Linked DNA regions of Homo sapiens. The protein of the gene in region 2 interacts with the protein of the main gene of each other region in a pairwise test. Each region holds a gene or a part of one and is shown on either strand. Other genes may lie near its edges.

The links.
Region 1: the proteins of TNNI3K (region 2) and MYBPC3 interact in a two-hybrid assay, tested with the Homo sapiens proteins (one study listed by BioGRID).

What each region holds. Positions count from the first base shown.
Region 1 is NC_000011.10:47,342,703-47,349,702, forward strand, and holds part of MYBPC3 (myosin-binding protein C, cardiac-type), read right to left. Parts: intron 5,840-7,000; coding exon 5,722-5,839; intron 5,204-5,721; coding exon 5,155-5,203; intron 4,979-5,154; coding exon 4,949-4,978; intron 4,778-4,948; coding exon 4,724-4,777; intron 4,328-4,723; coding exon 4,325-4,327; intron 3,943-4,324; coding exon 3,925-3,942; intron 3,669-3,924; coding exon 3,505-3,668; intron 923-3,504; coding exon 790-922; intron 561-789; coding exon 558-560; intron 444-557; coding exon 319-443; intron 234-318; coding exon 128-233; intron 43-127; coding exon 1-42. UniProt on the Homo sapiens protein: Thick filament-associated protein located in the crossbridge region of vertebrate striated muscle a bands. In vitro it binds MHC, F-actin and native thin filaments, and modifies the activity of actin-activated myosin ATPase.
Region 2 is NC_000001.11:74,226,728-74,243,367, reverse strand, and holds the start of TNNI3K (serine/threonine-protein kinase TNNI3K), read right to left. Parts: upstream 7,982-16,640; 5' UTR 7,917-7,981; coding exon 7,877-7,916; intron 7,267-7,876; coding exon 7,158-7,266; intron 1-7,157. Other genes in the region: FPGT-TNNI3K fusion protein, read right to left, coding at 7,158-7,266. UniProt on the Homo sapiens protein: May play a role in cardiac physiology.

The DNA.
Region 1 (7,000 bases), on a different chromosome or scaffold from region 2:
TTGAAGGTCTCCTCCCGGGTCAGCTCCACCCCGTCCTTCAGCCTAGCCGGGTGGGTGGGTGGCAAGTGCTGTGGCCTCTTCTGGGCAGATGCCCCCAACACCCATGCCCCGTGCTTCTGGAACTCACCATTTGACTTGCGCCCCCTCCTCCGATACTTCACACTCAAACTCCACCCGCTGCCCCACCATCACCAGCTGGTCCTCCAAGGGGCGCGTGATGAGCACAGGGGGCTCTGTCCAGGCAGGGTGAGCATGAGGGTTGGCTCCCCTGAGGCCATCTCCTCCCCAGGTTCCCACATCCTCAGGTCCCAGGCCCACCTTTCACAAAGAGCTCCGTGCTACACTTCTCGCCACCCACCACGCACTGGTAGGCTGCGTCGTCCGCCAATGAGCACTGGCTGATGGTCAGGGTACGCTTGGCACCGATGGACTCAAAGATGTACCTGGGTGGGGGCCGCAGGGAAGTGGCAGGAAAGCTGCGGACACCCCTCCGGGCCCAGTGCGCCCCATGATAATCCCTGTGCCCCCCACCCCAAGCCATCCAGAGGGGAACTTACTTGCTGTAGAACAGAAGGGGCCGTTGAAGTGTTCCCGACGGGAGGAAGTGAGCCCGAGACAAAAGGAGAGAGAGAGAGGGACCGGCAGGAGCAAAAGGATGGGAAATTAGGCCCAGAGAGATGGGGCTGAGAGCCACACCGAGTCAGAGATACGCATGTGGAGAGGGGCAGGAGGCAAGGCTATGGGGGTCCCCACCTCCACCCGAGCCCCCCTCCCCACCCCAGGCTGCACCTGCCGCTCATCTGGATCTCCTGGCCATTCTTGAGCCATTTGACCTCAGCGTCATGGTCAGCCAGTTCCACGGTCAGCCGGATCTTGTGGCCTTTGCTCACCTGGTAGGCCGGCTCCAGCTTCTTCTGAAAGGCTGAGCACCACCCCTCAGCCCCGGCCACCCCACCGCCCGCACCCTGCTCCCCCAGGCCAAGCTACTGTGGCTGTGGCTGGGGCCCAGGTCCCCCCCTCCAATCCCCTCTGTGCCGCCCCGCTTCCACTTCTCTGTGTCTCTATTTCTTTTTGTTTTGTTTGTTTGTCTGTTTGTTTGTTTTTTGGACAGAGTCTTGCTCTGTTGGCCAGGCTGGAGTGCAATGGCGCCATCTTGGCTCACTGCAACCTCTGCCTCCCAGGTTCAAGTGATTCTCCTGCCTCGGCCTCCCGAGTAGCTGGGATTACAGGCATGTGCCACCACGCCCAGCTAATTTTTGTATTTTTAGTAGAGACGGGGTTTTACCATGTTGGCCGGGCTGGTCTTGAAATCCTGACCTCAGGTGATGCGCCCGCCTCAGCCTCCCAAAGTGCTGGGATTACAGGCATGGTGTCTTCATTTCTTTATCTGTGTCTATGTGTCAACCCACCTCCTTGTCTCTGTCTGTCTGACCTTGTCCTTCTGTCTTCCTTGGGGTCCTCTCCACCTGCTCAGCTCAGGGATTGGGTTAGGGGCTTCCAGAAAGACAGAAGCTTGTCAGGAGAACTGGGGCTGGGACAGCTGTGCCTTCTCTTCTCTCAGCAACCCCTGAGTTGTGTACTCTTCCCAGGCGCTCCCACCTAGCAGCCCTCTGTGCCCAGCACTCTCACTCCCATCTCAGCCCCCAGGGCCAGTGCGGTGGTCCCCATGCTGCTGCAGTGGGGGAAATAGGGCTCAGAGAGGCGACTGGCCCAATGCCACCAGCCCAGCAGGTGTGTGGCAGAGCTGGGTCTTGAGCCCAGCCCTGCTCCACAACAATGCCTCCTCTTGCGGCCGTGTTTGTAAAAGCCCATGTTGCTGCTGCTGAGCCCAGGGAGGAAGTGGGGGCTCCATCCACCGAGCAGAGAAGGACCCCTGAGTCCTCAAATACTCTGGCTGGGCCTGGAGTCAGCTGCGGAGGGGCAGAGATCTACTGCTGGGTGCTCTGTGACCTTGCGCTAGTTCCTTAAACCCTCTGTGCCTCGGTTTCCTCAGTAACATGGAAATGGTAATAGTCCTTCCATCATAGTGTTGTTTCGAGAATTAAATGAGATAATTACATAAAGCACCTAGTGGCTGGCTTAGGAAGGAACTCACTCACTTTTTTTGAGATGGAGTCTCATTCTGTCACCCAGGTTGGAGTGCAATGGCACAATCCTGACTCACTGCAACCTCTGCCTCCCGGGTTCAAGTGATTCTCCTGCCTCAGCCTCCGGAGTAGCTGGGATTACAGGCGCCTGCCACCATGCCCAGGTAATTTTGTATTTTTAGTAGAGACGGGGTTTCACCATGTTGGTCAGGCTGGTCTTGAACGCCTAACCTCAGGTGATCCACCTGCCTCGGCCTCCCAAAGTGCTGGGATTACAGGCGTGAGCCACTGCACCTGGCCAGCAATTTGCTCTTTTTACTGTTGTTGCTATTCCTGGAAGACACCCCTACCCTCGGAGGTCCCCATCTGCCTTGCCAGCCTCCATCTTTTCCTCCTTGGGCACCTACAGTCCTTTGCTTGGTGCCCTCTGGGCTCAGCAGTTCAGGAGTTAACCCAGAGGAACATTGGTGGCATTCAGGGGATCCCTGGCTTAAATGGGGCCACGGTGCCGGTAAGGGCCAGGCCACCTAGCGATGGGGTGATGGGAAACCCAGTGAGGCTGAGACAACAGGGAGGCAGGGCAGAGGGATAAGGGGCCTGGGGGAGGTCAGCAGGGAGGGACTAACCAGCTCCTCTCCCCGTCCCCATGATCGTGTGTGTTTTGTGTGTGTGCTTTGGGAGGGGCTTGTCTCCCATATCCTGCATGGAAGCTGACCCCTCCATTCAGTCGGTGTTTATAGAGCGCTCGAGGTGTGTGCCAGGCCCTGTGCTAGACCCAGACATGGTGGGGAGAAGGCATGTGAGACCCCTGCTTTCCCGGCTCACACCCGCCCTTGTCAACCCCTCAGTGGAGAAGGGCTATTCCTGGGCTCTCCTCTTTCCATCTGCCTGGGGGTGAGGGTAGTTAACCCAAGCCCTCCTGCTTTGTTTGCCTGAGAGAAAGATTAGCCAGGCTCTTTTCTTTGCCTGTGTGTGGCTCTCCAGGCTTAGCGGGCCTCTTCCCTTTTCTTTTGGGTGTGGAGAGGGTTAACCGGGCTTCATTTCTTTTCAGAAGAGGGTAGAGAAAGAAAGTGTAGCCTGATTTTTCCTTGGTGAGGAGGGTTAACCTGAGCTCTGTCCTTTTCCTTGTGGCTGTCCTGGCCTAACTTTTGCTCTTCTCTTCTATCTCTGTGGTAAGGGGCTAACCTGGGCATTCTTGGCTTTTTCTACACAAGGAGGGGTTAACCTGGGCTCTTCTTTCCTGTGAGTCTCTGTGCTAAGCCGGACTCCGCTCTTTCCATGTATGTGGACGAGGTGGGGGGCTAACCTGTGCCCTCTCCTCTCCCCTGTGGGGAAGGGCTAACCTATGCCCTCTCCTCTCCTGTGTAGGGAAGGGCTAGCCTGTGCCCTCTCCTCTCCCCTCTGAGGAAGGGCTAACCTGTGCTCTTCTTCTCATCGCGCCTCATGCCCTTGAGCCTCTTTAGCATGCCGCGCAGGTCAGTGACGCCGTACTGGAAGGCGATGCGCTCGTACTCAGATGGGGGTGCCTGCCGTAGGATCTCCCACACGTCCTCCTCTGCTGGTGCCTCCAGCTTCGAGTCCCTGTGTCCCGCAGTCTAGGCTGTGGCCGGGGGCAAGACTGCAGCCCCCTGGGCGGGGCTTCCTGGGCCCAGGACCAAGGAGCTGTAGCCACCCCTGTCCCTCTGCCCCTTCCCTTCTGGTGGGGCAGCTGGAGCTGCTCTGGGTCCCAGGCCAGGCAGGACTGGGGGCCAAGGGAGCTGAAGAGGGGCTGGGGATCTGGAGGGGCTCCTGGCAGAATTAGGGGTGATGAGGGTGCTGTGCTATGTTGGGCACTCACCTCGGGGTCCGGAAACTGCTGCTCCAGGGGTGGGGGTGGGAGAAAGGGTAGGTGGCACATGAGAGGTATGGCCACCTTCCCTCAAAGACCTGGACCCCACCCATGGGCCTTTACTTCCTCCCTATTTTCCGCACTTGCACTCCCTGTGTTGTGGGGCACCCATGCTGCTCCGGAGGCTCTGGCAGGACCTCCTGTGTGCATTACTTTTTCTTATCCCTCCTAAGCTCTGACAGATAGGTGGGTGGCAGGAGAAGCCCAAGGCACAGAGACTCACCCCTGTCCGTGGGGAGCCGCACCCTGCTCTGAGTCTCTCACCACAGCCTCTCAGAGAGGGGACGGGAATCCCCTCTGCACCCACCAGCGCCCTGCCGCCCCCAAACACCCAGACCCCGATTCTTACTCTCTGGGCCACAGCAGCAGCAGCCATAATGGAGGGGCCGGGGGAGAGGGAGAGAGAGGGCAGAGAGAACATAAGTCAGTTGGGCCGACCTGGTAGACCCTGCAGCTCTGGGGACCCTCTCTCTGTTCCTTCTGGGTCCCCGGAGTTTACGGAGGGAGCTTTTGCAGCCTCAAGTGTGGAGTGGCCGTGGGGGACACTGTGAGGATGACTGTTGACGGGACATAATGTCTGCAGAGCCCTTTAACTCCTTCCACACTGGGATCATCCCCTCGACAGACAAGGAAACCAACTCAGAGAGGTGCAGTGTTGTGCTCAGGGTCACACAGCTGGCAAACCACAGTGCTGGGATTTGGAGCCAGGCCTCACCAGCTGCCCCAGGAACTGCCACCCAGGACTCACCTCTTTTTCAGCAGTGAGCTGAAGTCCAGAATCCCAGTGTCCTCATGGCTATCACTATGGAGAGGGACCCCCAGTGAGGCTGCAGTGAGGGACTGGAAAGGGATTAGGAGCAGGATGGGAGTGGAGTGGGGAGGGAGAAAGGGACACTAGCCAGATTGGGCTCCCACCCGTCTCAGACCCCTGGGGGTCTGCGGATGGTGCAGGTAGGGCCTGGGGCAGGGGTACCTGATCCGCCGACCACCTCCAGCCAGGCTCCTGTGGGGGTTAGACTCAGTATCCTCACCTGCCTGGGAAGCTTGCTCTCCCCTGCAGCCCCCACTGACTTCAGCTCCGCCCCGCAAATCATCCCCAGCCCTGACCCCCAGTCGAGACCCTGAAGGGCCTCAGACTCCAGCACTGGCCTCCCCCAGGCCCTGAGGATGGCCACTCACGTGCGGCGGAAGGCTGATAGGAGGTCCAGGTCTCCGGTGCCCATGGCCTCTGGGTTCAAAGGGTGGAGAGATGGGGGAAGGGGCTTCAGAGGGGGCCGTTTGAGAAGCCCTGCCCTGGGGGCGGCCTCTGAGTATTCACAGACTTGCCCATTCATGACCCCATGAGGCTGGGCATCTGCCCCAGGATCTCACCTTCCCAGCCTTTCCCAGGGTCAAGGTACCAGGCAGGTGGGACGGTTTATTGTCCCCAATTCCCACCCATCTCTCAACTCACCTTCACCCATCGCCCAAACATTCAGACAGTGCCAGGCCATGGGCCAGGAGCCGTGACACCAAGATGATAAAACAGAGTCCCACCCAGATGAGACCCGGACTCAGCCCTAAGCCCCCACGCCTACCCTGCAAGCCTTGGGGTTTCTCTCACACCCTGTGTGTGCAGCACTGGGCACGTGGCCAGCACTCATGTCTGGATGGGACGAGGCATCCTCCTTAGTGTTGGGAAAAGGAGGTAGGAGACCAGGACCCATGGGGAGCCCGAGCCCAGGACAGACACCAGGGCCCCCTCACCGTGGACAGTGAGATTGAAGTTGGAGCAGTCAAATTTGTCCTTGGTGGACACCTCACAGCGGTAGCTGCCAGTGAAGGCAGGCTGGGCATCGGTGATGTGCAGCTCGAACAGATAGACCTGTGTGCATGGAGGGACGGGGCGTCAGGGGACACCAGGGGCCGGGAGACAAGGCTCCGCACCCTTAAAGGAGACTGGGAGTGGCCGGGCGCGGTGGCTCAGGCCTGTAATCCCCACTTTGGGAGGCTGAGGCGGGCGGATCACATAAGACCAGGAGCTCCAGACCAGCCTGGCCAACGTGGTGAAATTCCGTCTCTACTAAAAATAACGAAAATTAGCCAAGTATGGTGGTGCACACCTCTAGTTTCAGCTACTCGGGAGGCTGAGGTGGGAGAATCGCTTGAACCCAGGAGGTGGAGGTTGCAGTGAGCCGAGATTGAGCCACTGCACTCCAGCCTGAGCGACAGAGCGAGACCCTGTCTCAAATTATATATATATATATATATTTAAAGGAGGCTGGGAGTGACAAATGCTCATCGATCTTCGCACCCTCAGGCTTTAGTTAACCCATACAGAGTTTTTGTACAGAGAAAGGGGACTATCTCGAAACCCATGATTGCCATCTGCTGGCACATGGTTGTGGTGAAATACAGGCTTTTGTGCAATGCACAGCCCCGCACAGCAGAACATGTTGGCCTCTCTTGCTAGAGGCCCCCTTGCCTAGCCCAGGACTGGGGAAGGTTGGGAAAAGCAGAGGCTTGGAGTGAACAAACAAGGGGACTTAAGCCTTAAGGTTCTGGTGGGCAGGGCGGAAAAAAACAAAACACAAAAAACGAAGGCTTAAGGTTCTAGGCCTATGTCTAAGTGACCTTGGAGCAGCCACTTAACCTCTCAAGCTTTGGTTTCCGTGTCTGTATAATGAGGAATTGTTCTGGTTAATCCCTGAGAGTCCCTTGAGCCCTTAGCCCTGATACTCACCCATCCAGGGGCTTTACAACCCCACTAGCTGGTGCCCCCATGCTTCACAGTGTCCTCCAGGCTTCCTGACCACCCTGGGCGACCCCCCACCCCCGGCCAAACCTTATTAGGTGCCCCCTTGAGGTGATCATGTCCACCAAGTCTCCCAGGTCCCCGACAGTGCTCCCATGAGCCTCATCGCACTCCCTGGCCCCCAGGCCTCCGGGATCTCCCTGTGGGCCCCTGGCCCCTCCACCTGCCTCCCAGATTCCCCACACCCCTTGCTTGCAGCTCGTGTGTGCCTCTGGGTCTCATGGTGCCCTC
Region 2 (16,640 bases):
CATTGCAGATTCTTCCCTGCCCCATGCCCTCCAAACAATAGAAGCAGACTATATCAATAAGATCTGTTTCTAATATATATCTCCAAGAAATATCCAGAAATATATTTGTTTGATATCTTGCAAATAAAATCTGCAAACTAATACTGTGAAGTATATTCATTTATTCAGCCATTCATACAATAAACAATTATAGTTAGAGTGACAGATATGATAAAATTGGCATAATTATTGTTATCTTATAAGATTGTTGTGAAGTGTAAATAAGTTAGAGCTTGTAAAGCTTTTATAAATATTAGCTGCTATAATAGTTATTTCTATTAAGGCATTGATATTATTTTTACTGTTTTTGTATTGTTTTGCTCTTCAAAACAGGGATAGGAAAGAAGGAATCATGGAGGTACAGGATGGAAAAGAAGAAGAGATGAAGGGTAAGGGGGAGAGAAAATGATAGAAAGATAGCGAGCTACAGATGGAGAAGGAGAGGGAGAACAATAGGGAGAGATAGAGAGAGAGAGGCAGAGAGAGATTGAGGTCAAGTTGCTTCTCAATGATTTCACAAGATATTCCTGTAAAATTATGGTTCTTAACTAGTTTTACCTGGACAAACAAGAAAAGAATTAGAGAAATAGACTGACTTAGGGCATTATGAATTCTTTGTTTCCTTTTGGATTTGAGGGTTTTTTTTGTTGTTGACGATTCTTATTTTTTGTTTTGTGGCTAATTGGCAAAACACACTACCAAACATGCCAAATAATATTTTCATTCTATGTTAATTATAAGATGACATTTCCCCTTCAATATCCTACTTAGTAGTTTGACAGAAAGGGTCTACTCCTCTTAAATAAGATCAGCTTGAAAAGTTTCCAGTGCTATTCATCTTATAATAGCCAAATTTCATAGTTGGCTATAGTGCAATAATTTTAGAAGATATTTTGTTTTAAGGATGAGTATAGTGGAATGCAACAGGCCTCAGATGAACTTTTCAGAGAGAAAAGGTACAAAAAGGTGTATCTCAGAAAACATTTTTTTATTTCCTCTATACATTGTGACTATTTAATGGAACAGAGCATTCTTTTGACCACTTTTTTGTACATAATTAAACCTAGTCAATTTTAAAGTGAGGCACTGTAATTACTGACCAAGATGTATCTACTCAATGCCAAAAAAGTTGTTTTGGATTATGTTGATGTCATAGTGTTTAAAAATTACAACTTTTCTGGGTCAGGCGCGGTGGCTCATGCTTGTAATCCCAGCACTTTGGGAGGCCAAGGTGGGCAGATCACGAGGTCAGGAGATCGAGACCATCCTGGCTAACACAGTGAAACCCCGTCTCTACTAAAAATACAAAAAATTAGCCAGGTGTGGTGGTGGGTGCCTGTAGTCCCAGCTACTTGGGAGGCTGAGGCAGGAGAATGGCGTGAATCCAGGAGGCGGAGCTTGCAGTGAGCCTAGATCGCGCCACTGCACTCCAGCCTGGGCGACAGAGCGAGACTCCGTCTGAAAAAAAAAAAAAAAAGGAAAAGAACTTCATGTCTAAAACACCAAAAGCAATGGCAACAAAAGCCAAAATTGACAAATGGGATCTAATTAAACTAAAGAGCTTCTGCACAGCAAAACAAACTACCATCAGAGTGAACAGGCAACCTACAGAATGGGAGAAAATTTTTGCAATCTACTCATCTGACAAAGGGCTAATATCTAGAATCTACAATGAACTCAAACAAATTTACAAGAAAAAAACAACCCCATCAACAAGTGGGCAAAGGATATGAACAGATACTTCTCAAAAGAAGACATTTATGCAGCCAAAAGACACATGAAAAAATGCTCATCATCACTGGCCATCAGAGAAATGCAAATCAAAACCACAATGAGATACCATCTCACACCAGTTAGAATGGCAGTCATTAAAAAGTCAGGAAACAACAGGTGCTGGAGAGGATGTGAAGAAATAGGAACACTTTTACACCATTGGTGGGACTGTAAACTAGTTCAACCATTGTGGAAGTCAGTGTGATGATTCCTCAGGGATCTAGAACTAGAAATACCATTTGACTCAGCCATCCCATTACTGGGTATATACCCAAAGGATTATAAAACATGCTGCTATAAAGTCACATGCACATGTATGTTTATTGCAGCACTATTCACAATAGCAAAGACTTGGAACTAAGCACCAACCCAAATGTCCAACAATGATAGACTGGATTAAGAAAATGTGGCACATATACACCATGGAATACTATGCAGCCATAAAAAATGATGACTTCATGTCCTTTGTAGGGACATGGTTGAAGCTGGAAACCATCATTCTCAGCAAACTATTGCAAGGACAAAAAACCAAACACCGCATGTCCTCACTCACAGGTGGGAATTGAGTACATGGACACAGGAAGGGGAACATCACACACGGGGGCCTGTTGTGGGGTGTGGGGAGGGGGAGGGATAGCATTAGGAGATATACCTAATGTTAAATGACGAGTTAATGGGTGCAGCACACCAACATGGCACATGTATACATATGTAACTAACCTGCATGTTGTGCACATGTACCCTAAAACTTAAAGTATAATAAAAAAAAAAAGAAAAAGAAAAAGAAAAATTATAACTTTTCTGGAGTATTCTCATGGTTTTAAATTTCATATTATAGATTAAGCAGATACAAATTTGGCTTGACAATGAAATTAGCAAAACATAGTCTTAAAATTTATTATGATAAAAACTATTGAAACAAAATAATTTAATTGAAAACATTTGAAGTCACATGTGGAGAGCCATCACTTCCATAGTTTTTTCAAAAAGGTTGTATAATATTCATAACCAAGATTATGAATATGATACATTTTGAAATCAAATAAAGATGGATGCAATCCTAGGTAAATCATACAAATTGTTTAATCTAGTTCAAGCCAGTTTAATTTGATTAGCCTCATTTTCTCCAGGTATAACATGGCAATTGCAACACTTACTTCAGAGGGTTGTTAACATAAACAATAATGATTAAGTGTTAACTAACATTTTTGAGGGTTTGCCATGTGCCAGACACTGTGCTAAAGCACTTTACATATACACCATTAGGATTATATAAGCTGATGCACAAAAAGATACGTAGAAGCATTTCTGGCATATGGTAAGCCCTAAGTTATTAGTTTGTTTTACAAATAAGTACAAATATAAATAAGGCTAAATAAGAAAAAAAGCTGCCTTTAATGAACACATATACTAGTGGGGAGATAGACCTATAAATGGATAAAAACAACACCATGTAGTAAGTGCTGTTATGTTGATAAAGATTAGAGGCAGCACAGAGGAGGATATAATCAGACAATGGTACTCTAAGGTGCCCTTTCTGTCTTTCTTTCTCCTCCTGCCTTCTCTTTTTCTTCATTTCTTCCTGTCACCAATCCATTACCTAAACAAATGTCCAAAGTTATGAGTGAATGCAACTTTATAGCAGAAGATGAAAGAACATTCCATTTCCATTTCCCCTCTCTCCCACATCAAGCTCCCATTCCAAAGCTGCTATAAATTGGCATAAGCAGGATAACTATTTAGCTCTTTCTGTCTTACATTTAGCACTATATTGCTGTTTATTATGTTGTGGGTAAAAGCTATGCCAGGAAGATTGTGTATTCGAGCTGATAGAGCAATGGTGTATTATGTGGTGAAAAATCTCTTATAATGAATGAAATTAGCATCTACCGGGAATGCCATAAAGAAATTGGTTAGCAAATGAAAAACTGTTTACATCAGTGATCCTTTACGTTTCATGCTAGTTTAAATGTTCCTTTTTGGGCATTGTATACAGTCTCCTTGCTATCTAAATGTTTAGAGAAAGGCTGATGTCAGGCAACATAACATAATTGTTTATCACAGGAATGCTCTTTATAAGACAAATGAATAAGGGTGAGTAATGAGATTCTAACATTTATTTAGCACCTATAATGCTCTAGATACTCATTTAAATGTCATTTCATACAGTGTTAGGTTTGATCTTCCCAACTACCTTTAAAATTTTGTGAATGAGTGAGTAAGACAATTTACATTCTCAGCACACTATTCTTTTCTTTCTTTCATCCATCATTTTATTCCAAAGAAAAGAAAATCCTTAGAACTCTGCCCTGGAAGCAATTCACTTTTTTCTCCCAGATTATGCTCTCTACCTTGACGAAATCAGACAAAAGCAGATTATTCTGTTTTTGCTTGCTTGTTTTTGATTCTCTTGACTCTCTTTAGACCACACCAGTTGCTTACTTTCTGTTCCCATATTCCTCATCCCTTCACTAATATCACCTCAGGCAAAGAGTTCTCAGTGCAATTTGGATATCTTTCTAGAAGTATAGTTTTCAAACTTTAGAAGTATCATTTTTATTATGCATAGTTTTATCTGGGGAGCTTGTTAAACATTCAGGTTATTGGAAGACATCTCCAGAGATTCTGATTCACATGATAAAGGGTGGAGTCATGGAATCGAAAATTTTAGCAAGTACTACAGTCTCCATCTCCATTAACATAAGAGGCCCCTAGTTCTTGCAGAAACATCATTCTAGACTGGATAATCCTCTCCTCAGCTTCCTTATCATCACATTCTGTAGCTTCTTTAATGTCATCAGCATCAGGCTATTGGTCTTTCTCTCCAAAAATGTCTCACCATTATCCTCAGTAAATTTGATAGCCATTTTGATTAGCCTTCTAATACTCTAGTCTCAAAATTCTTCAAATCCCTTTCAATCAAAATCATTAAAAGCTATATTTCAGATTTCGGCATCTTCCTAAATTGTGCTAATACTTTACATTTTTAATTTTGAAATCATCCTCTTCATAAAAACTTTCACTCTTTCTAACTTTTAATAAGCTATTTGTTACTCTCACTTTATGATAAGTCTTCTATCCTTCAAACTGTCCTTATTTATCCAATCAATCATGATAATAGAAATTTCCAACTACTCAATGCTTACTATGGGTTGGGCCCTGTACTTAGTATTTAATTTACCTCATTTTGAAAATATCCTGTGAGGTGATTATTATTCACCTCATTTTATAGATGAAAATGAGGATTAAGGAGATTAAAAAACATATCCATGGATATACAGCTTATAAATAGAAGAAGCTGTATTTAAAACCATGTTTGTATGACTCCAAAATTCTTACATTGATTCACATAGCTTTCTTACTCAAGTCAGATAATATGGTGAAGACATTATTTTTTCTCACTTTTCCTAAACTTTCTATGGTACTCATTCATTCTTGCCTACACACCTTTACTTAACTATGCTTTTTATCTACAATGATTCCAAAAATCAATGAATAAATCAGGACCTAAATCTTGTTTTTGTAAGCAGGGTATGGTAGGAAGAGCGCTATCTATGGAGTCAGGCAGACCTTGACACAAATCACATTCCAGAATTTACTGACCATGTGACTTGACAACTCCCACTGCCTTGTCTCTAATCCTTAGTTTATCATCCACCGGAGTTAATATTATTCGGCACACATGAAATGACAACAATCTACATATGACTATAGATTAAATAATGTCTTGTATTTGATGTATCCAGAACAACACTTGAATACGAGCTGGCACTCAACAAATTCTGGACTGTAAGCTCCCTGACACAGATTCCTGCATCTCACCCCCAATGCTAATCAGAAAAAAGAAGGTCACATTTGTTGCATTTAGTAGAAACACAGGAAAAGTCCATTATAGCAGTTGTCAAAACAGCTTGTAGTTGTCGATGTGGTATCAGAAAGAACCTACATTTTAAATCCATTGTTAATCCTAATATTCAGGTTTGGATACATCTAGTTTAAGCTAGCCTTCACCTATGTGCTCAATACTTTCTAAATTAAAAAATAATACTAAATAACTGAGGCTTTGACCTTTAAAAGTTGAGGAAAATCTCTTCAATGTAATCATATTTCATTTAGCATATTTATTTAAGTCAATAAGAGCTAGATGTTTATGATTAATTTCTATATTCATACTTTTCCAACAAAACAAATACATATTTATAATTCTACTGTACTAACATGCCAGTCATATTTCTACAGGAATTTCAAATGTAGTTCCATATCTCAACATGTGATACTACTTGCAAAAGTCAGATCAGTGGTATCTCATCACAAGTGTCAGTGTTGAGTTCATCATCCTGGGCCAAACTATAAAGAGAACCAACTACTTTTTGAACCATAAGTTGAACACTTGTGAAAGCCTTGTTACATCCATTGACGAATTTCATATAAACTATATTATACATGGGTGATTTTATTTGCCAATTATGTGATATTTATATGTTTACTATATCTAAAATTTTATTTTAAAGATGTGTCATTTGGTCATTGCTTTACACTTGTTTTCTAAGTAAAATAGAGGGAGTTCTTTGCCATGAGTGCATTACATAACACAGCTATAAATGAACATGGCTAATTGGCCTATATGGAACTTTTCCTTAGTCAGGCAGGTAACTTTCTTGACCCTCTAATGGGCATCTAGTTTCTCAATGTCAGATTCAATTTAACCAGAAGGCTTTTTGTGTATATAAGGGTCTTGCTCCTCTTTTCTGAACATTTTGTGTCTTCCAAGGTTGTGACACTTAGATTATTTTTCTCTTGTTATCATGGAACAAAATCTACTGAAATCCTGAAGGCAATATTATATGTTGTTATATGATTGTTCAGGGGCAGAATGATACTCAGTTCCATTAAGGGACAGCCTTTCAATGTCAAGAGACCAGAGGGTTTGTTAAAATTGGACTTACCGTCATAGTTCAAAGAGAACAATGTGGCCAATATGCGACCACTATGTGGGAAGAAAAATCTTGCTTTTCATTGCCGGCATGGTTTACAAGAATGATCTAATTCCTGAGAAGATTACTGAGATCAACAATAGCTTGCATTCAAAGGCTAGCCTTTAGGTTTTTATTTTTAAACTTTAATGATGGCAGATTACAATTTATATTTTAAGGAGGTGAGATGTTATGTTTGCATTTTGAGAGCTATATGAGTGGTCAAAGAGAGATAATCTGACATCCTAAGGCTTAGAACATGACTGCTTATGTCTGAGGTTCTACGGGTTTAAAAAATATACAGATACTTTAAAAAATAAGGTGAATACTGAAGACACTTATACAAAGAAATAATGACTCTTACAACTTTACCCAAATATATTCCTTAGTTCTGTCAGTTCTTTTTCCTTGATCTGCAGGTCATCTTCTAATCTTTCTATTGTGATAACATATGATTCACTGACTTTTTTCTTCCATTCATCTAGTAAAGAAGAACAAATGAGATTGATTCATAGTTGTGTTTTGCAAAATGTAGACACAGATCATAACATACAAGTAATCAAAACTGTTTTTTATTCTAGATTCTACAATACTTAATTTAAATTACTGATTGTGTGTTTAAAATGCAGATGTTTATATTTAAAATGCAATCATATTGAATTGTAGTAATGAAGAACCCATTCGATATTGGATAATATATTTACATAGAAAAATATATTTGACTTATTTCATTTGATTTTATTGCATTTTAATTATAGCAATCTCTAGTTGCAAGACGGTTTTTAGTTTTTAAATACTAGATACTTAAGATATAATTCTAAAATCCCTACATTCAGCAATATTCCAAATTTTTTTCTGTAACATTATACCAAGGAACTAAAATAATATTTTTGTAAGAAATTTCTTGTTTCCTATAAAGATCTTCAGAAAAAAATAATTTGAGTTCAGATAGTTTTTCAAAGACTTTCACAAAACATGCTGCCTTATCTTCCGTATACAAATTAACACATATTCCAATGAGTTGTTAGTTATCAGTAACTATAATTGAACCATATTACACTTAAGGAAATAAGAATAATTAGAATAATTACCAGTACAAGTTTGGGTTGGTCTAGATTTATAATTTCCCATTTATTATAAGTTTCTTCCTTTCTCCAGGGCAGTTCTTCAAGTTATAAGATTCCAAGTTCAAGTGCAGTGACAGTCCAGTTGAAAAATACTTTGATAGTCTGGCTAAAAATAAGCCCAACTGCCAAATGGAATGTCATGCAACAATGATAAAGAACAAAATCGTGTGTGCTTTCGAGGGTGAAATCATAAAGGGAACTAATCAGTCTGTTTAAAAGAACTGTATCAAAAATAAATAGCAAATGTTTCAATAGGATTATTTGCTTCCATCAATTATCTACCCATACATACTTTCATGGACCATTTATTTAACAGATAAATCTAGAAAATGATTCAGTTACATCCGAAGTTCACAAAAGAGCTGTTAAAACTACATAGACCTGTTTTCAAGATCATTTTCTCCTAAGCCAAAATAATGGCAGTTGGTAAAGAGTGGTAATAGAATGTGTCTACATACATAAATAAATAATAAAAATTCATTACCTCTAGCATATAACTAATAGAAATGAATGCAGGTTTGGCCTGTATAAGAGCTACATAATTATGTTTGTATGAAGAAATTCTCAACATAGACCAAGATTTATACTATTGTGGATTATTCCGACCATAAGAATCATAGATCAGAATGTAAAACATTAAGTTCTACAAATAGCAATTCGTAAAATAATAAATGACAAGAACAGTAAGATTAAGAATAAGAAAATTGAGCATTTGCTATGTGTCAGACCCTAGTTTACATGCTTTACATATATCTCATTATTTAATCTCATACATACAGTGCTGCTAGGTAGATATTATTCACAAATTATGGATGAGAAAACACAAAGTTACTAGTAAGTTGGAAGTCTGGAATCAGTTCTGACCATGTGACTCTAATATCCAAGCTAGATATTATTGATTTGTCTTCCAGAATTTCTCTTTCATGCACCTTCCATTTACTTTATTAGGACATTTCTCTTTGTATGCATATTGTATGCCTATTTCTACTGATATAAAGAACCCAGTCTATGATGGAGAATAAATGGGAAACCCAGAAAGAAAACATTAAATTTTTCACTATATATTTATTTCAGATAATCTTCTTATACCTAGAAAGTATAAATTTTAATCTTCAGATTCACATCCAGAGGATATAGCTTTAACTTAACAGATACAGATTTCATATTTTCTATAGTTAAATGTTCAAACAACTCTCTTTTTGAATAAATGATTAGACAAAGTTAGGACTCACCATATATTTTTGCTCAGCAAAAGTAATAGAAGTTTCAGAGGTAAGGCTTCCAGACTGATGAGATATAGTTGGCGCATCAGGTGTCTGGCTTCATAGACACTTTTTGTCCTCATCTGGACATATTCTCCTTTTCCCTTCTTATCAGTACATGCCTACCACAGCTGTTGATACTTGCTATACTGCAGTGGCATCTGGTTACCTTGGTCCATACACTCTACATTCTCCTTGTTTGAAAACCAGACATCTTCAGTTCCACCAGCTTTCTCTAAGCACTTCTGTGACCCCCATTTTCTCAGTTTGGAAAGTCTTTGTTTTGTCCAGGGACCTTCCTGCTTAATCTCTTCTTCCTTATCTTGAAGACCATACTGGATAGCTTTCTTTAAAAGACTTGCAATCTCCCAGGGCTACACTTTAGGAAATAATGCACCAGCTCTTTCTCCTCTCAGAGTTTCTTAAAATAATCATGGTTTCTATACTCTGAATCCAGAAGGACAAAGATGGGAGCCTTCTAGAGGACAACTAAATATATTTTTCTTGATCTCTTTTCTTATTTCTAATATCTCGGATCTTCCATCCGTGTGTGTGTGTGTACATGTATGTTTTCCACATATGGAGGAAAAATTAGCTCTTACATCATCTTCCACTGTGTTTCTAATTTCCTGCTTGGGACACAAGTCTGATGTACTGCTTTTTAGAATTTTTCCTTTTGATTTTCAAGAATACTTTTATTCTCTTAAAAAGCCTAGGTTTTACAAATGAAAGCTTTGGCTTTCAAAGGTGTGATTTCTGCGATGAGTTTGAAAATCCAATCAGCAACTCAGTTGAATTCTCCCACATTCTAATGCAATACATTTTGCTGGAAATAAAATGAAACGATAGCAATATAAGAAATGCAGAAAATTACTCAAAATATTACCCAAAATATTAACCACTATTGAACTATAACAGTTTCCTGGTTTGAAAGAAACAATATTTATCTCTAAGCCCTTCTTAAGAATGTGGATCTAGGTAATGGTTTGAGGTACTAGAGTAATTTTTTCTGGGTACCTTCAGCCTGATGAAGAAATGCTGGAAATGTAAATGGTCCAGGATAATATCCTTGCATTCCTTTTCCAAAGAATGTTGGAAAGAAACAACATAGAATCAAAAAATATTTTCCCTAATACTCAGTACATTTCTGTAAAAAGTACTTCTTTCTAATAAAGAGTTGGCCACATACTCTAAGTTGAATCCTACTTTCCCCAGTCCTGAGACGTCCAAAAGTGGAGAAAGCATGTTATATCATACATTATCAAAAACACAACTTGATTACAAAAGTAGTCTGCTTTCAAAGTTTAGTGAGGGTAGGCAACATGAGGAGCTTTGTTTAAAAAAATAGAAACCTGGGCTCCATCCCCAGAAATTCTGATTCAGTACATCAAGAGTAGAGCCCAGGAATCTGAACTTTAACAAGCAACTCTGATGATTCTAATGTAGATGCTACTTGGAGCATCATTTAAGAAGCACTATTTTAAGGTTGCTTAAAGTGAGATGCTACTTAACAGAAATTTTTTTACCTTTGAATTTCATGCAAGAGAAAAGAGATAAGTAGAATAAAAACAAAAGAAAGATTACTTCAGATTATCAAAGAGTTCTATCCTGTGGTAATTCCTGGGGCAATACATGATTTGGCTATGCAAGTATAGTCTCGTATTTTAAAAGTGATTCACAAAAATTGAACCAACCAAGATATTCCTTCATAAGTGAATGGAGAGACAAACTGTGGTATATCCAGAATATGGAAGATTATTCAGCAATGAAAAGAAAGGAGCCATGAAAATTCATGGAAGAACTTTAAATGTATATCACTAAGTGAAATAAGCCAGTCTGATAAGGCTACATCCTGTGTGATTTCAACTATATGACATTTTGGAAAAGGCAAAACTATACAAACCATAAAAAGATCAGTGGTTACAGGGGTAGAGGAGAGGAAGAGATGAGTAGGTGAAGCACAGGAAATCTTTAGAGTAGAGAAATATTCTGTATGATACTCTAATGGTGGATACATGACATTATCCATTTGGCAAAAATCATAGAACTACACAACACTAACGTAAACTATGGACTTTAGTTAAAAATCATTTATCAATATTGGTTCATTCATGTTAACAAATATACTATATAAGATGTTAATAAGAAAAATTGTGTGTGTGTAGGGGGAGTATATAGTAACTCTGTACTTTCTGATCCATGTTTTTTGTAAACTGAAAACAATTCTAACAAAATATTAATTTAAAAAATTATGGAAAAATATAAAACAAATGATGCAAAAAATAATAATTCCTTAAAAAGAGCATTTGAAGTACTCAAGGAAATTTAATAATTTATAAAGAAAAGCCAACTCAAATACATGATTAATAGTAAGGTTTCTTTCTTTTATGCTTGCTCGTTTCTTCATTAGAAAATGTCAGAACACATTTATGAAATATTATTTCTTCAACTACTTTGTTTCAACTAAGTTTGATATTCTACTGAATTGCCTAAATCTAGTTTTAATGCCTCTGTCTTTTCAACTGATTTCTCAGACCACTTCTGCATACAAATAGTTATATTCTAATACTCCTTCAATAAACCCACTTATGTTCTTTCTGCATTATTTTATTTGGGGTTTATACGATTTATTTATCCCAATCTACACTTACGCATCTGCTATTTATATTTATTTTATACTGATTTCTTTATAAAGATTTAAAAGGATGCTTTCAAAATGAAAAACGTAAAAATTGACCTTGACACTTCTACCTTTATGGTTCCAACAGAGAAATGATAAAAGAAAATGTATCCCATGAAATCAAACTAATGCACTTGGAACAATTATTATCACATTTAGAAGTTGAATTAATTTATACTTTGATAATTTCTTCATTGTATATTAGTCCTTATTAATATATTTCCATGTTTTGGGGAAGCATAGAGTTTCAATGCGTTGCATCTGGTTGACAAATTAATCATTGCTTTAAACATAAGAAGGTGGAATTACTAGTTAGTTTATATTTAGGTTTTTTTCCTTTATTTTTAATAAAGATTAAATAATTTGTGTTGAAATAAAATTATTTTAAAAATAAATTGACCATTGCCTAAGATGCATACAACTATTCAAGTGCACACAATTATTTGATTAATTTTCTTTTAAATAATGTGTTTCTGCATTTAAACAAGCATAATTTGTAAGAGTCTTATTTATCAAACAATTTTCTTTCTTTTTCACTAGAATATCTAAGTTTTTAGTATGTTGGATGATGTATAAATCACCATCATCAGTCTGAACATGTTGAGGTAATATTCAGATTAATCCTCAAAAATGAGTAAGACTTGAGAATACATTATAATGAATATATATTTATAATATGATAATATAATGTCACAGTAATTTAAGTATGTGTTCTCAGTATCTTTAACTGTCAGAGTATATTTTAAAAAGGAATAAACAATATTGCTATTTCTGTGTCCAATAAAGTATAACAGCAAATGCAAAGATCATAGTTTTTCCTGTGATTTCCTTTGTTGGTGGGTAAACATGAAATAAAGTTGATTAAATAATCTAGATTAAATAGAGGTAAGAGTCACATTTCTGTAACTGGCTAAAATTTCTTTTCCAAATTTATATGACTTCTTTGAATTGTCAGTCTAGCTCAATTTACGAACTGATCAGTCCATTTATCCATTCAACAAATACGTATTGTACCAAGAAATCCACAGAGCTCATGGGGCCAGAGATGCATGAGTAAACAGGTAACCGCAATGCAGTATTTGTCCTATGATGAGATATACATGATTGGCATGAGAAAGTCCATCTATTAAAGGCTAAATTTCAATCAGAAAAAGTTTCTTTGAGGAATTAAAATAATCAGAATAATCTAAACTTCATGACTCAGGCCACTTCCGTTCCTTCTTAATTCTTTCTTCACCCATCCTAAGAGTTAATTAACCAGCTTAAAAATGATATTGTGTGATAATTATAGTTCAATTAATAACTAATTATTGTTTTGGACAAATAACATTTTTAAAAATGTTATTTAGAATCTAATGTAATCAACTTTATGTTTGTTTGTTTTAAAAATTAGAGGTTTCTCTAATTAGAGGTTTCTAAATCGTATAATAAACAAACATAAAAAATTGGGGGGAGGGAAAACAAAATAATAGTTCTACTTATTTGAGAGTTTTTTTTTCTTTTCTCAATTTTTATTTTCTTTTTTTTAATTTTTCAATTTTAATTTGTGTGGGTATATAGCAGATATATATATATTTAAGGGCCACATGAGATATATTGATAGAGACATACAGTGCGTAATAAGCACATCAGGGCAAATAGGGTATCCATCCCATCAAGCATTTATCTGTTTTGTTGCAAACAATCAAATTAGAAACTTTTAGTTATTTTCAAATGTATAATTAAATTATTTTTGACTGTAGTCACCCTGTTGTGCTAACAAACACTAGGTCTTATTCGTTCTTTTGAACTATTTTTTGTACCCCTTAACCATCCCCAACCCCACCACCTGCTACCCTTCCCAGCTTCTGGTAGCCACTCTTGTATTCTCTATCTCCTTGAGTTCAACTGCTTTTATTTTTAGCTCCCATAAATAAATGAGAACATGCAAAATTTGTCTTTCTGTGTGTGGCTTATTTCACTTCACATAATGATTTCCAATACCATCTATGTTGTTGCAAATTACAGTATCTCATTCTTTTTTATGGCTGAGTAGTACTCCATTGCATTTATGTACCACATTTTCTTTATCCATTCATCTATTGATGGACACTTAGGTTGCTTTCAAATCTTAGCTATCGTGAACAATGATGCCACAAACATAGGAGTGAAGTTATCTCTTTGATACACTTATTTCTTTTCTTTTGTATATGTAATTCAGCAGTGGGATTGCTGGATTATATGATAGCTCAATCTTTATTTTTTTGAGGAAACTACAAGCTGTTCTCCATAGTGGTTGTATTCATTTTCATTCATACTAACAGTGTACAAGAATTCCCTTTTCTGCACATTCTTGCCAGCATTTGTTATTGCCTTTTTGATATAAGCCATTTTAACTGAGGTGAGAAGATATCTCATTGTAGTATTGATTTGCATTTTCCTGATTATAAATGATGTTGAGCACCTTTTCATATGCCTGTTTGTCATTTGTATGTCTTCTTCTGAGAAATATCTTTTCAAATATTTTGCACATTTTTAAATAAGATTATTGATGTTTTTCCTGTAAACTTGTCTGAGCTCTTTATAAAATTCTGGATATTAATGAATCCCTATCAGACGGGTAGTTTGCAAATATTTTCACCCATTTCGTGTGTTGTCTTCACATTGTTGATTGTTTCTTTTCTATGCAGCAACTCTTTAACTTGATGTGATCCCATCTGTCCATTTCTGCTTTGGTTGCCTGTGCTCATGGGATACTACTTGAGAAATCTTTGCCCAGTTCAATGTCCTGGAGAGTTTCCCCAATGTTTTATTTTAGTAGTGTCATACTTTGAGGTCTTGTAGTTAAGTCTTTAATCCATTTGGATGTAATTTTTCTATATGGCAAGAGATAGAGGTCTAGTTTCTTTCTTCTGCATATAGATACCGAGTTTTCCCAGCACCATTTATTGAAGACACTGTCCTTTTCCCAATGTATGTGCTTGGCATCCTTGTCAAAAATGAGTTCATTGTAGATGTATGAATTTACCTCTGGGTTGTCTATTCTGTTCCGTTCATCTATGTGTCTGTTTTTATGCCAGTATCATGCCATTTTGGATGCTGTAGCTCTGTAGAATAATTTAAAGTCAAGTAGTGTGATTCCTCCAGTTTTGTTCTTTTTGCGTAGGATAGCTTTGGCTACTCTGGGTCTTTTGTGGTTCCATATAAATTTTAAATTTTTTTTTCTATTTCACTGAATAATGTCATTGGTATTTTGATAGGGATTGCATTGAGTCTGTAGATTGCTTTGGGTAGTATGAACATTTTAACAATATTAATTTTTTCAATTCACAAACATGGACAATTTTTTCATTTTTGTGTGTCTTCAATTTCCTTCATCAATGTTTTTTAGTTTTTATTGTAGAGGTCTTTCAATTTTTTCATTAATTCCTAGATATTTAATTTTATTTGTAGCTACTATAAGAGGGATTAATTTCTTGATTTCTTTTTCAGATTGTTTGCTGTTGGCATAGAGAAATGCTACTGATTTTTGTGTATGTTCATTTTGTATCCTGCAACTTTACTAAATTTATCAATTCAAGTCGTTTTCTTGTGGAGTCTTTAGGTTTTTCCAAATATAAGATCATATCATGTGTAAATAAGGATAATTTGACTTGCTTCTTTTCAATTTCGAAGTCCTTTTTTCCCTCTTCTCTGATTGCTCTAGCTAGGAGTTCCAGTGCTATGTTGAATAACAGTGGTGAAAAATGGGCATCCTTGTGTTCCACATCTTAGAGGAAAGCCTATCATTTACAATGATACTAGCTATGGATTTGTCATAGATGGATTTTATTGTGTTTAAGTATGTTTCTTCCATATCCAGTTTTATGATTTTTATCATGAAAAGATGTTGAATTTTAGCAAATGGTTTTTCAGCACCAATTGAAATGTCCATGTGATTTTCGTACTTAATTTGGTTGATACAATGTAGTACATTAATTGATTTGCATATGTTGAACCATTCTTGCATCCCTAAGATAAATCCCACTTGGTCATGATGGTGACCTTTTCAATGTGTTGTTGAATTTGGATTGCTCGTATTTTATTGAAGGTTTTTGCATCAATATTCATCAGTGATACTGGCATATAGTTTTCATTTTTTGACAGGTCTTTGGTTTTAGTATCAGGGTACTACTAGCCTCATGGAATAAGTTTGGAAGTATTCCTTCCTTTTCCATTATTCCAAACAGTTAGAGTAGGATTGGTATTATTTCTTTTTTAAAATGTTTGGTAGAATTAAGCAATGAAACCATTGAGTCCAGGCTTTTCTTTGCTGGGAGGTGCTTTTTATTATTGCTTTGGTCTCTTTACTTGTTATTCGTCTGTTTAGGTTTTGGATTTCCTCATGGTTAAATTTTGGTAGGTTGTATGTGTCTTGAAATTGATTCACTTCTTCTATATTTTCCAATTTATTGGCATATAGTTGCTCATAGTAGCCAATAATGATCCTCTGAATTTCTGTGACAACAGTTGTATTGTTTCCTTTTTCATTTTTTATTTAGATCATTTCTCTTTTTTTCTTAGCCTGGCTAAAGGTTTGTACATTTTGTTTATCTTTTCAAGAAAAACCCTTTTTGTTTCATTGACATTTTATTTCAAATTCATTTTTCTTGCTCTAGTCTTTATTATTTCTTTTCTATTAATTTTGGGTTTGGCTTGGTTTTGCTTCTCTAGTTCTTTAAGGTGTATCATTAGGCTGTGTATTTGAAGTTTTTCTACTTTTCTGATGTAGGCACTTATCGCTATAAACTTCCTTCTTGTTCTGCTT